Regions from separate parts of the Homo sapiens genome. Here region 1 is linked to region 2. The links come from fine-mapping of genetic effects on gene expression. A gene starts in region 2. The other region holds a variant in brackets. All regions are shown on one strand. Distances are between the middles of the regions. Region 1 has its middle 24 kb from the start of TMEM250. Region 2 holds the start of LINC02846 (long intergenic non-protein coding RNA 2846).

Region 1 (5,357 bases), 34 kb after region 2:
TTGTATTTTTTAGTAGAGGCGGGGTTTAACCATGTTGGCCAGGCTGGTCTCGAACTCCTGGCCTCAAGTCATCCACCTGCCCCGACCTCCCAAAGTGCTGGAATTACAGGGTGAGCCATTGTGGCCAGCCTAATTTATTTATTTTTGTAGAGACCGGGTCTCACTGTGTTGCCCAGGCTAGTCTCAAACTCCTGGGCTCAAGCGATCCTCTGGCCTCGGCCTCCCAAAGCGTTGGCATTACAGGCATGAGCCACTGCACCCAGCCAAATGTTCGAACAGATATCTGGGAACCCAGCAGCCAAGTCAAGTTGACACATGAAATTAACCATCACTCCATCCTCACGATTCTGAACCGCACGCCTCAGTGGCATTAAGTGCATTCACGTTGCTGTGCAAACAACATCTTCCTCCATCGACACAGCTTTCCCTCTTTCCAAACTGAAGCTCTGTTCCCACCCCCTCCCCCCGCCCCTGGCGTACACGCCTCTGCTGTCTGTCTCCAGGGCCTCTCGGAGGAGGAATCAGGCAGGCCTTGCCTTTTCATGGCTGGCTGCTTTCCCTGAGCACAACATCCTCCAGGCACGTCCCCATCGTAGCTCGTGCCAGAATTTCCTGGGGTTTCTTTCTGAAGTGAAGAAAATGTTCCAAAATTGACTGTGTTGATAGTTGCACACATCCGTGAGTATACAGAAAGCCATTGAATCATACGCTCTAACTGGATAAATTGGATGCGATGTGAGTTCTATCTCAATAAAGCTATTATTTAAAATATAGAGGTCAGCTGGGTGCAGTGGCTCACACCTGTAATCCCAGCACTTTGGGAGGCCGAGGTGGGCTGATCACCTGAGGTCAGGAGTTTGAGACCAGTCTAGCCAACATGGCGAAACCCTGTCTTTACTAAAAATACAAAAACTAACTGGGCGTGTTGGTGCATGCTTGTAGTCCCAGCTACTCGGGAGGCTGAGGCAGGAGAATTGATTGAACCTGGGTGGCGGAGGTTGCAGTGAGCCGAGATTGCGCACTCTAGCCTGGGCAACAGAGGGGGACTCCGTCTCAAAAAGCAATAAAAATGAATAAAAATTCAAAATAAATAAATAAAATATAGAGGCTAAGTGCAGGCCGCCTGCCCCGTCATTCCCTATCTTGTGAGGGGCTGAGCGCTAGAGACCAGAAGCTGTGGATTTTCCAGCCAGGCCCTATTGGCTGAGGCACACGTGTGGCTCCCCCAAGACAAGAAGCTTCTGGAAACTCATGGCGCCCAGCACCGAGCCAGCGAGCCAGCTTCCTTCCCTGCTAAGCCCATCCCACCCCGGCAGAGCTCCCTTGTCTCTGCCCACCCCAACCCGGAGGCTGCTCACCCTCAGCTCCTGCCCAGCTCTGGCCTCCTGGCAGCATAGCGAGCTTTCTAGAGCATTCTGGAGCTTTCCAAGGCAGCAACTGCAGTCCCAGCCATTCTCCAAAGCTTAATTCTGCTCTCACCTAGTCCCAGCTGTGACCAGTGCCCGCCTCAAGAAGCCTACAGCCCAGGGCCCGCCCTCCCTGCAGACCGGACAGCAACGCCACCTCTGGGAGACTCGTGGGGACGGGGCCCAGGGCAGGCTCACAGTGGGAGGCTGGCAGCACCTACCCGGGGCAGGGCCTCCTCCTGCCACTACCACGTCAGGCATCACTGAGAAGGAGGCAAGGCCTAGAGCAGTCGGCACCCTCTGCAGAGCTGGCACATCCAGGGAGCTTAGGGTCCCTGCATGCTTCTGGGGTTCAAAGGGCAGAGGGTGTGAGGGGCAGCAGGGAGGCTTGAGACCCTCTGGACTTCGAGATCACCATTTCTGCCCCAAAGCCGATGCCTCCACCAGCACTGGCCCCTGCAGTCCTCGCAGCTCCCCTCGAGCTCAGGAGAAGCCCGCAGGACCCCACTCTCCCTCCCAGGGCTCCCTCTCCACCTCCTGGGGCTCCCTCCCTCCCCAACCTCCCCACACTCCCCAGGCTCCCACACTTGCCAGGCCCTTCCCCCAGCCTAACCCTGGCTCACCATTTACTCAGCCTATTTAGCATCGTAATGCAGACTGGTTGTGCTGGGTCCTACAGGTATTGATTTTGCTCTATTTTACTGGTTTTAACTTAATGACTAGAAACCCCAAACAAATAAAATTTCCTTTAAAAACTCAGAGAGATCAATGCTCATGGGCCAGAATCCCTATTCTACGAGCCGAAGGGACAGTCCCCTGGGTTCTCCGCATCATCGCTCATGGCCAGAGGCTCCCCGGGGGCTCGGGAAGGATCCCTGGGTGGGGGTGGGGGCAAGCATACCCCACCTGCTCAGGGCGGCCGCGTCCCTCCTAAAGCGAGACCCCCACCCTCTGGCTGGTGAGGCTGTTTAAAAGCCTGTCTCCAGGTTGTAAAACTGGAAAAATTTAAAACTTATGATTCATCTGTTTCCATGTGTCCCAGGCGGCCTCTGAGGTTGGCCGGGCTCTGAGGCAAGGAGGGGTCCCGACCCTGGGCATGGATGCAGATGTGGAGGACCTCTCGGAGCACGCAGGTGCTGAGGCCCCCAGCCCAAGCCGCCAGGACGGTCCCCATTCCTGGCTGGTGGGCTGGGCCACAGGTCAGTCCGTGCCCCATGGCCTGGGGGACACTCCTCCCGTGCCCTCCTGCGGGCTGCCCAGG[G/A]CGGCTGCCTTTGCGATCCCCAAGGTCTCCCAGAGGTCCTGGGGTGGCAGGGGCCCCAGTTTATCCAGTGGAAGGGGAAACTGAGGCAAGGTCCTGGACAGGGAGTCCTGGCTCTGCCTCTTCCCGTGAGACCTGGAACAAGTCTCCCGCCCTCCTAGGGTTCCAGGCTTGTGGTTGTGAAACCAGGGGGCGCTCAAGGGACACTCAAGGCTCTCAGTTCTCCCCATCCAAGTCCTCCAAGTCAACAGGACCCCCAGGAGTGGGGGAGAGGAGGAGCAGAGCTGGCCGGGGGCCGGGGTGGGGAGTGGAGGCCTCGCCCTCCCTTGACCTCCCGGATCTGCCCCTGTGCTTCCGGGAGGGTGAGGAACCAGCAAGAACCCCCACCCCCTGCACCGAGGTCCCCAGGCCAGGCCTGCAGCCTCCCTGGAGGGAGCCCTTTATTGCCCCTCCCCAGAGGCCCAACCCAAGCTCCTCACCCTGATGGCATTCATCCAAGAAGCCAGGATGAGGGTTCCCATCCCCACTGCTCACACTTGGGAAGGTTTTAAAACCAGCTGGGACCAGTTACAGGGACAGCAGGACTTCTGTGCCCACTGGGGCCAGCCCAGCTACCTCCAGGGGGTCTGGGTTGACCTTGGCCTGGGAAGCCTGTGCATGCCGGGGAGGGGGCACTGGGCTTTTCGCCTGCTCCCTCAGCCCAGTCTCTGGATTGCACTGGCCCCCAGCAGCTGGAATCCCTGCTCCCCGGAGGCCCACCCATTTCTGCAGCCCAGCCCCCCACCTCACCCCTCTCCCTGCTAGCATTTAGGCAGCTCCAGGGACACCCTGGTCACCCCATCCTGACTTGGGCAGGATCATAGAGCATATGATTTAATCTTCTTGTGCCTCAGTTTCCCCCTAGGTGCACTGGGTCCATGCCTCTGGGCTGGCAGAATTTGACTGCTGGGACACTTAGGCCCCTGGAGGAGTCAGGAACAGCCCCCTGGCCGGCTCTGCAGTGCACACGTGGTCAGGCCCTGAGGTGGTATCTCCTGCAGGTCTGGAGAGAGGCTGGCAGGTGGGTGGAGAGGCTGTTGAGAAGGGCACTGCCAGGGTCCAGGGCAGAGTCTCCACGTCCTACCCACCCACATGGGCTCCCTGGCTGTGCGCTCTGCAGAGGGTGACACGTCCAAGGAATGGGGAACGCAAGACTTCCCTCTGCTGGGTCACGGCTCCATCTCCAAGTCTGGGCCAGCAGCCGGAGGGCTGGATGCTATTTGCAAATTAGTGTTTCACCATTAGACTTTCGGCTGTGGGAGGTGGTGACAAAGACCTTGGCCCCCCACACTTAGCTCTTGGGAACGGCTCTGCCTGGGTTCCCCCGAAGCACAAGCACATGTCACCCGCCACCCACTCCGGGCCCTGTGGGTCCAGCTCTGCAGCCCAGCCCACCACTTACAAACACAGTAGGTCAGGCAAGAGGCTTCTGCTCCCAGGTCTTGATTTTCTCATCCACACAACGGGCCTGAGCTCTACTGTGGAGGCCAGGACAATGGCAAGGACTGGAGGAGGTAAAATCCCGGGACCTCCAGTCCAGTGCCGCCCCACGTCCTGGGGATGCTGTGTGGATCGAGCATTACAAAAGCATTTTGTAAGAAGGTGTTTGGGGGACTCCAGCCCCACTGGACAGATGGGAATACTGAGGCCCCAGAAGGCACCTGTGGGAAAGATGCAGGCTCCAGTCCTGGTTGCGACACAGACGCGTGCCTCTCGGATCCTCTCTGCCCGCCATTTCCCCAGGGGTCAGCGTTCTCAGGAATGCTCAGGGCCTGGCGGCCCACCTGCTCAGAAGGCCCAGGCAGCTCTGCCAAGGCCAAGGGCAGCAGAGACCCTCCAGCAGGCCAATGTGCCCAAGAGTCCTCGTCCTCCAAAGCCCAGTAGCTTAAGCACGATTGAGGGATTCTGCAGCTGTGTTTCTGTAAGGAGGAAATCATTGACTCTGGTTGGGGGCAGGGCATTTGGGGGGCATACCTGGAAGGGGCACCATCACAGGAGCTGGGAGGCTGGCACCTGGACGGGTCCCATGGGACCCACTGAAGAGTGACCTACATGTGTGAGTGGCCCATGGCTGGGACTTGGAGAGGGGCAGGGAAAGCAGGGGTGCCGTTCCAGGCTCCCAGACAGCGTCTGCTCCGGGCAGAAATTGTTTATGCGTCACCCACCCAAGGCTCCCGGGGCTGGAGGGGCAAACCCACCCACTCCTCTCTCCCCTCCTCCCCTTCCTCGTCCTCCACGCAGTGGGGGCTGCCTGGCTTTGGGATCCTCTTCCATTTCCTCTCTGCAGACATCACTCCTGGACCCAGTCCCCAATCCCTGGAAGGTTCCGGAGCCTGAGATGCTCTCCCCCCAACTCAGCCCATAGGTGAGACCTTGGCCTCCCTCACCTGCTAGGAAGCCCCTTGCTCGGGCTGCCTGCCCTTGGGGCCTCCAGGCAGAGCTGGACTGAATCTACTTGAGGGAGTAGCACCATCCAGATGGGCCCCCAGTGGGCCGGGGAAGGGCAGGAGACCTGCACCTTGCCAGCTGCCCTGGCTTCCCGGCACCCTGGGGGCTGGTGGAGCCCTGTTATCACTATGTCGGGGAGCAGAGCCCTGGGGTCAGGATGTGGGTGGCAGGAGGGCTTGGGGAACTTGGCTGTGGACATCTGGCCA
Region 2 (5,357 bases):
GGAATCTGGAGCTCCCTGGCCCACTGCGGCAGCCGTGCCACAGGTGACATCGTGAGCCCCGCCCCCCCGCCCCCCGCCCTGAGTCCAACCCCAGCCCTGGTTCCTTCTCCCTGAACTTCCCACCTGGGGACAGAATGCGGGCCTAGGGCTTTCCCTGGGGGTGACCTGAGAACAGCTAGTCCAGCACCTCACCTCACTGCACGCTGTAGGCCCAGCCTCCCTGGGTTCCCGCCCCCTTATCTCACAGGAAGAGCTGGGCCTGGAGAGGGGCAGATGGCTGCACAGCCTCACGAGGGGCCGGGGAGCCGCACCTCTTCCTGCCAATCAGCCCAGCAACCGGCGACCCCAAGCGCGGCGACCGCAAAGGGAGTGCTTGCCCATCCGCGTTTGAAAGCAGACTTTTTCTCGGCAGGAACACAGGACTCACCTGCCAGTGGCTACCCAGGCAGGGGCTTCCCTGTTCCTCAAGGGGCCGGAGTCCCTCCGTTCTTTGGGGGACCATCTGAGGGAGCACGGGAAGGAGCCATGGATGTGGAGGGCGGCAGAGCCAGGACGTGAGACACGACAGCAGAAAACACTTGGGCACACAAATGCCACACCCCCACACGCACATACGTGCACACATACATGTGCCAGGCACGCACCCCAGCCAGGTGGAGGAGGGTGGGGGTCAAACCAGGCTGCACCGAGCACAGGTGGTGGCTGAGTTCCGGTTGGCCCAGCTCCAGGCTGTGGGGAGAAGAGAGATGGCGGCATTCTTTCGGACGCTTTTATCCACTATGGGAGCAGGAAGACAGCCAGGGTTATCACAGCACAATTTGAAAAACATACAAATAATTCATGTCAGCATAACGTCATGGTGTTGTCAATAATGAATCCACACTTAAAACCCAGATTGATAGCTTCAAAGGGCAGCCCCCACCCCTGGACAGGTAGGCAGGGCGCAGAGCCAGCCCCTCTTGGTTCTGAGAAGCAAACTCGGAAGCAGTTCAGGTCAGAGGAGTCCAGGGACCGCCCTTGCTGGGAGGAAATGGGTGCAGTGCGGCCCAGCGCAGTGAGCGGGGCCAAGGGTCTAGCAGCACTCGAGTTCTGCCCAAAGACGAGAGAGAGGGTGCCGGCCTACGTGCGCCCGCTGGGAAGAACTGGAAATCCATGTGCTCCCGTTCTGCGAATCCCTTCACCAGGGCGTCGGCCACCGGAGTGGGAAAAAACCTCTCCCGGCGTGAGAGCTGGGGGCAGGCCCAAGGTGCTAGGGGCTCCCGGGAGGACTGGCCATGGCCACCCAGCATCCCTGTGCCTGGCCTGGGCCTCGGTGGCCAGTCCTCCTCGGCTGCAGACCCCAGTGAGGACAGGGACCTCACCACCCACTGCCTGGCTTCTGAGGCAGCAGTGCCCCCATTAAACCTGAGATGAACTTCTCTGGGTCTTTCAGGAAGGAGCCCCGCCCCAGCATCTGGGCTCCCAGGACGAGGGCAGTCACTAAGTGGTGATGTCATGTCACTCATCGGCCTCTTCTGCCTGTGGCCATACAACAGGCCCAGGCCTGTCCCATCCCGAGGGAGGCAGATCCTGGCTGGAGCTGGCGGAGACTTACGGCCACACCCTGCCAAGGTGTGCCCACTGGGACCCGGGCCCAGCCTGTCACGGCGCCTCTCCCTGTGCCATCCGCCAGCCCAGGCTTGATTGAGCTCCATATGAATATTCATACAGCATTCTGCTGGGACCGTCGTTAATATTCTGAGGAAGCGGCAAGAATGCCCGTCCCCATGTCGTGAGCCATGGTCAACGTGCTGCTGACACGATGGTGGCTGTGGATTTTTCGGATGCAATTGTCAGGCCTCCAGGCTCAGGAGGGTGGAGGCAGCACCGCCATCTCCAGGCCCCACCAGCACCCATCCTCTGACCACGGACCTCCCAGGCACCCCACCTGCCCCCTGGCCTTTGCCTACCACCGTGTCCTTACCTGACCCAACCTCGACCAAATGCCCCTCTTCCTCACCGCTCCTGCCCCTGCTTCTCCTCCTCAGCCCTGACCCCTCTGCCCTCCCCGCCCTGCCTCCTGCCCCTGCTTCTCCTCCTCAGCCCTGACCCCTCTCCCCTCCCCGCCCTGCATTTACCCCACGCCCACAGCCCTCACAGGGCGGGGACACCGAGGTTCTCCCATAAATTAACCAAGCCCCTTTACGAAGCCCCTTCCCAAATAGAGCCGGCGCCCTCCTCCCCTGGGCCCGGGTCACCGCTGGGTCAGCGCCTACCGGCTCCCCAGGCCTGCCCCATGCCCTCAGCTAGAGGCAAACCCAAGCTCATGGGCGCAGCGAAGCTGGCAGGAGGGGCCCTGGGGGCTGTGGCTCACCCCTGCATGGCCCTCCTGCTGCCCTGAGAGCCCCTTGGCTCCGGCTGTCCCCATTAGTCGGGTAGGACTCTTGGGCCCCGCCCCACCTGCCCCTTCCAGTCTCCGCCCAGGTCAGGACGGCAGGTGGCCCCAGCAGGGCTGGCCTGAGATGGAGGAACGCGGCCCCGACCCGGGCTATGGGGAGACTCTGGATGTGGCGGTGGATCCGCTGACGGGGCTTTGGGATGTGATTATTTCCTGGGGGCTGACGGTAGCCCAGGAGCACCAAGACCCAGCTCTGCCTTCCGCCTCCCACGGGGCCTCTCCTCTGCAGGAGGCCATACAAGGACTGCACGGAAGGGGAGCGGCCCCGCAGGGAGGGGGCGCCTGGCAGCCCGCCCGCCGCAGCAGCCTGCAACCCCGCCCCCAGGCGCAGTGCGCGCCACAGCAGCCCTGCCAGAGCCCGTGTGACACAGCTGCCGGCATGCCCGGGCACGCTGCCCAGCTGGGCTGGGGGAGGGGCGCCGGGCCAGGAGCCGCTGAATCAGCTGCACCCGGACGGCCCCGCCTGGGCAAGGATGCTGGTGCGGCGGGGCGCTCTCTCTTTTGGGAACCGTCAGGAGGCGCGCCAGGCGGTGGGGTGGGGGGTGTTTCTGGACTGCGGCCTCTGCAGCCTGCTGCATGGGAAGTGCGGCTCACCGGGGCTGGGTGCAGGGCAGCCCCCGCCTCCGAGGGCATGAGCGGAGGCCTGCAGGGAGGGCCTGGGCAGAGAGGGGCCCTTTCCAAAGGAGACCCATAAGGAAGAAGAGAAACGCACTGGCCTCTGCAGATCGAAGCACGTTTGTCTCCCCCAGAAAACGCTGAATCAGCACTCACAGCACTGCCAGGGCCCGCGCCCTCCTCCGATCGCACGCTGGAGGGGACAGGCCCTTCCAAGATCACGGAGCATCAATATCACCATCGACGCAGCGGCACCGGGGGAGTCATGCTCTGGTCTGGAGTGGGGGCCGCGCCTGGCCCTGCCGTCCTTCCTGCTGGGGGCTGTGTTTGGAGCCGGGCACCTTCCCCCTCAGCCCCTGCTGTCCTGTCCTGCCCCCTGCGGAGGGGCGGGAGGTGGAGGACATTCCTGTGTGTGTGCGTTTGGGGTGGTTTTGCCTGTGGAGGCTGCACATGGGGGCTCTGACGGGGCAGCCTTCCGAGGCCACCCTGTGCTGGGGATGGGACAGCACGTGGCCCATCTTGACCGAGCATCTTAGATCTTGAAATCCCCAGCACCACCCCCTTCCAGCCACTGCCTGCCCTCTGCTGGCTCCTCAGCTTGGATTCCACTTTTCAGCAACAGAGACCCCCGGTCTGGTGCCCAAGCTGGTGTCCCCGTGTGGTGGACGACGGGGAAAGGGGGGCTCTGGGAGCCACTCGGCACAATCCCCCTGGGCCAGGCACAGACTGAAAATCAGACCCCACTAAGTCAACAGCCCCGGGCTGGCTTTGGTGGCTTCCTCCACACCCCGCGCCCGGCTGTGACTTCCTGACTCAGCACTCTGTTCAGCCTGAGATGGAGCCGCTCCCCACCTCCAGGCCTCCCTCCCACCCGTCTCCACCCAGGGGCCGCCCTCCCCAGAGCCCCTCTGATTCCTCCCTCCCCGGCCCGCCCAGCTCCCCCTCAGCTTCGCGCCTGCCTTGGGCTGGACACCTTCTCTGTGGTCCAGGCTCAGGGATTGGTCCAGGGCCGCCCACCCTCCCCCATCCCCCAGGCCGAACACTGACCTCTGGTGCCAGGCTCCTCACTGCCAAACCCATGACTCCCAAACCCACTGCTGTCACTGGGGGCCTCTCATCCAGCCAGCGCCGGGCAGCTCTGATTCCAGAACCTTCCCGGCACGTTCCTGACCTCCAGGCCAGTCTGCAGCTACCTCCACTTCCCACCGTCCCCAGGAGCAGCCAGCGGCCCTCCCTGCCCACACCTGTCCTTCCCAGCTCACTCAGGTCCGGCCGCCACCCTGAGTCCCCGGGGCCACTTCCCTCCTTCGCAGGCAACCGAGGCCACTTGCAGTGGGAGGGGAACCGCTGTATGGACCAGCCGCCTCGTAAGGATGGATCCTGTCTCCTAACCGGCTCCCAACTCCCTCCGAAGCGGCTGCGCGCTGCCTGAGATCTCTGCAGGAAGCCGCAGCGGCCACATGCTTAGGTTCTGTCTCAACACCTTCCCAGTCCTCGACTCCTCACCACTGCTGGAAGCTTCTGGAAGCCTCCAGGCCTGCAGGTCACTCCTGTGTTTTCAGACATGTGGAGCCCACCACCAGCAAATCAGGCTGTTCTAAATGTGACGTGTCCGTGGAAAGCGCTGGTCCCCCAGCAGTGGTCCTGGCACGTCTCCCCACCCAGCAGAAACACAGCTGCTGCTGGGAGGGCCCAGGAGGCCCAAGACAGACAGCCCCAGACATACAGCACCATCGGCGGTCCCTGGAGATCCCTCTCTGGGTGGCACCCTTACCAGTCACTGCAGCATGGTCTGGTCTGGGTGTCTGTCACTGTGGACAAAGGGCCTGGGGACAACCTCCAAGTAGCTCCGGCCTTCCTTGGAGCCGTGGCCCTTGCACAGCTCAGCCGGTCATCTGGGACCTCAAGGGGAGAACAACTTTGAAAACAGAACCTGTCAAACAGGGGAAACGCCTGGTTAATACAGCCCGAGGATGGCAGGTCTGCTGGGGAGCGGTCGTAAGCAGCTCCACCGCCCCTCAGATCCCCCACAGGGCTCTTCAGCCCCCCCCAGAGGAGCCGGGTTAGCGGGGCTCCCGCAAGGAACACACTGTGGCCATGGGGAAGCTCCTTGGCTCTTGGAGCCTGTGACATGCCTCTGCCCGGGGAATGGCCTGAGCCTAGGAGGTCGAGGCTGCAGTGAGCCGTGATCGTGGCCACTGCAGCTTTGGCAACAGAGCGAGACCCCATCTCTGAAAAAAAATAAAAAATGGAAAAACGGAAAGAAAAAAAAAAGCCCTTGTTATAATCCAGCTGAGTGGCTCCT

What was found. PIP is the estimated chance that this variant, and not a neighbour inherited with it, causes the effect. A credible set is the group of variants that fine-mapping cannot tell apart.
Region 1: its variant is the best candidate, but not a certain one, in a credible set for the expression of LINC02846 in whole blood (TOPMed, PIP 0.54).

The regions. Positions count from the first base shown.
Region 1 is chr9:136,140,618-136,145,974 of GRCh38, forward strand. No RefSeq gene overlaps it. Among named protein-coding and RNA genes, the nearest start is that of TMEM250, 24 kb to the left of the region's middle. RefSeq lists a silencer at 4,588-4,900. The variant G/A (reference allele first, on the strand shown) is at 2,668.
Region 2 is chr9:136,107,012-136,112,368 of GRCh38, forward strand. It overlaps LINC02846 (long intergenic non-protein coding RNA 2846), which reads right to left and starts at 2,425. Exons shown (of 2, transcript NR_189286.1): 1 at 2,354-2,425; 2 at 838-1,808. RefSeq lists silencers at 112-211, 2,620-2,809 and enhancers at 1,075-1,687, 2,299-2,911, 2,540-2,589, 2,912-3,523, 3,100-3,209 and 2 more.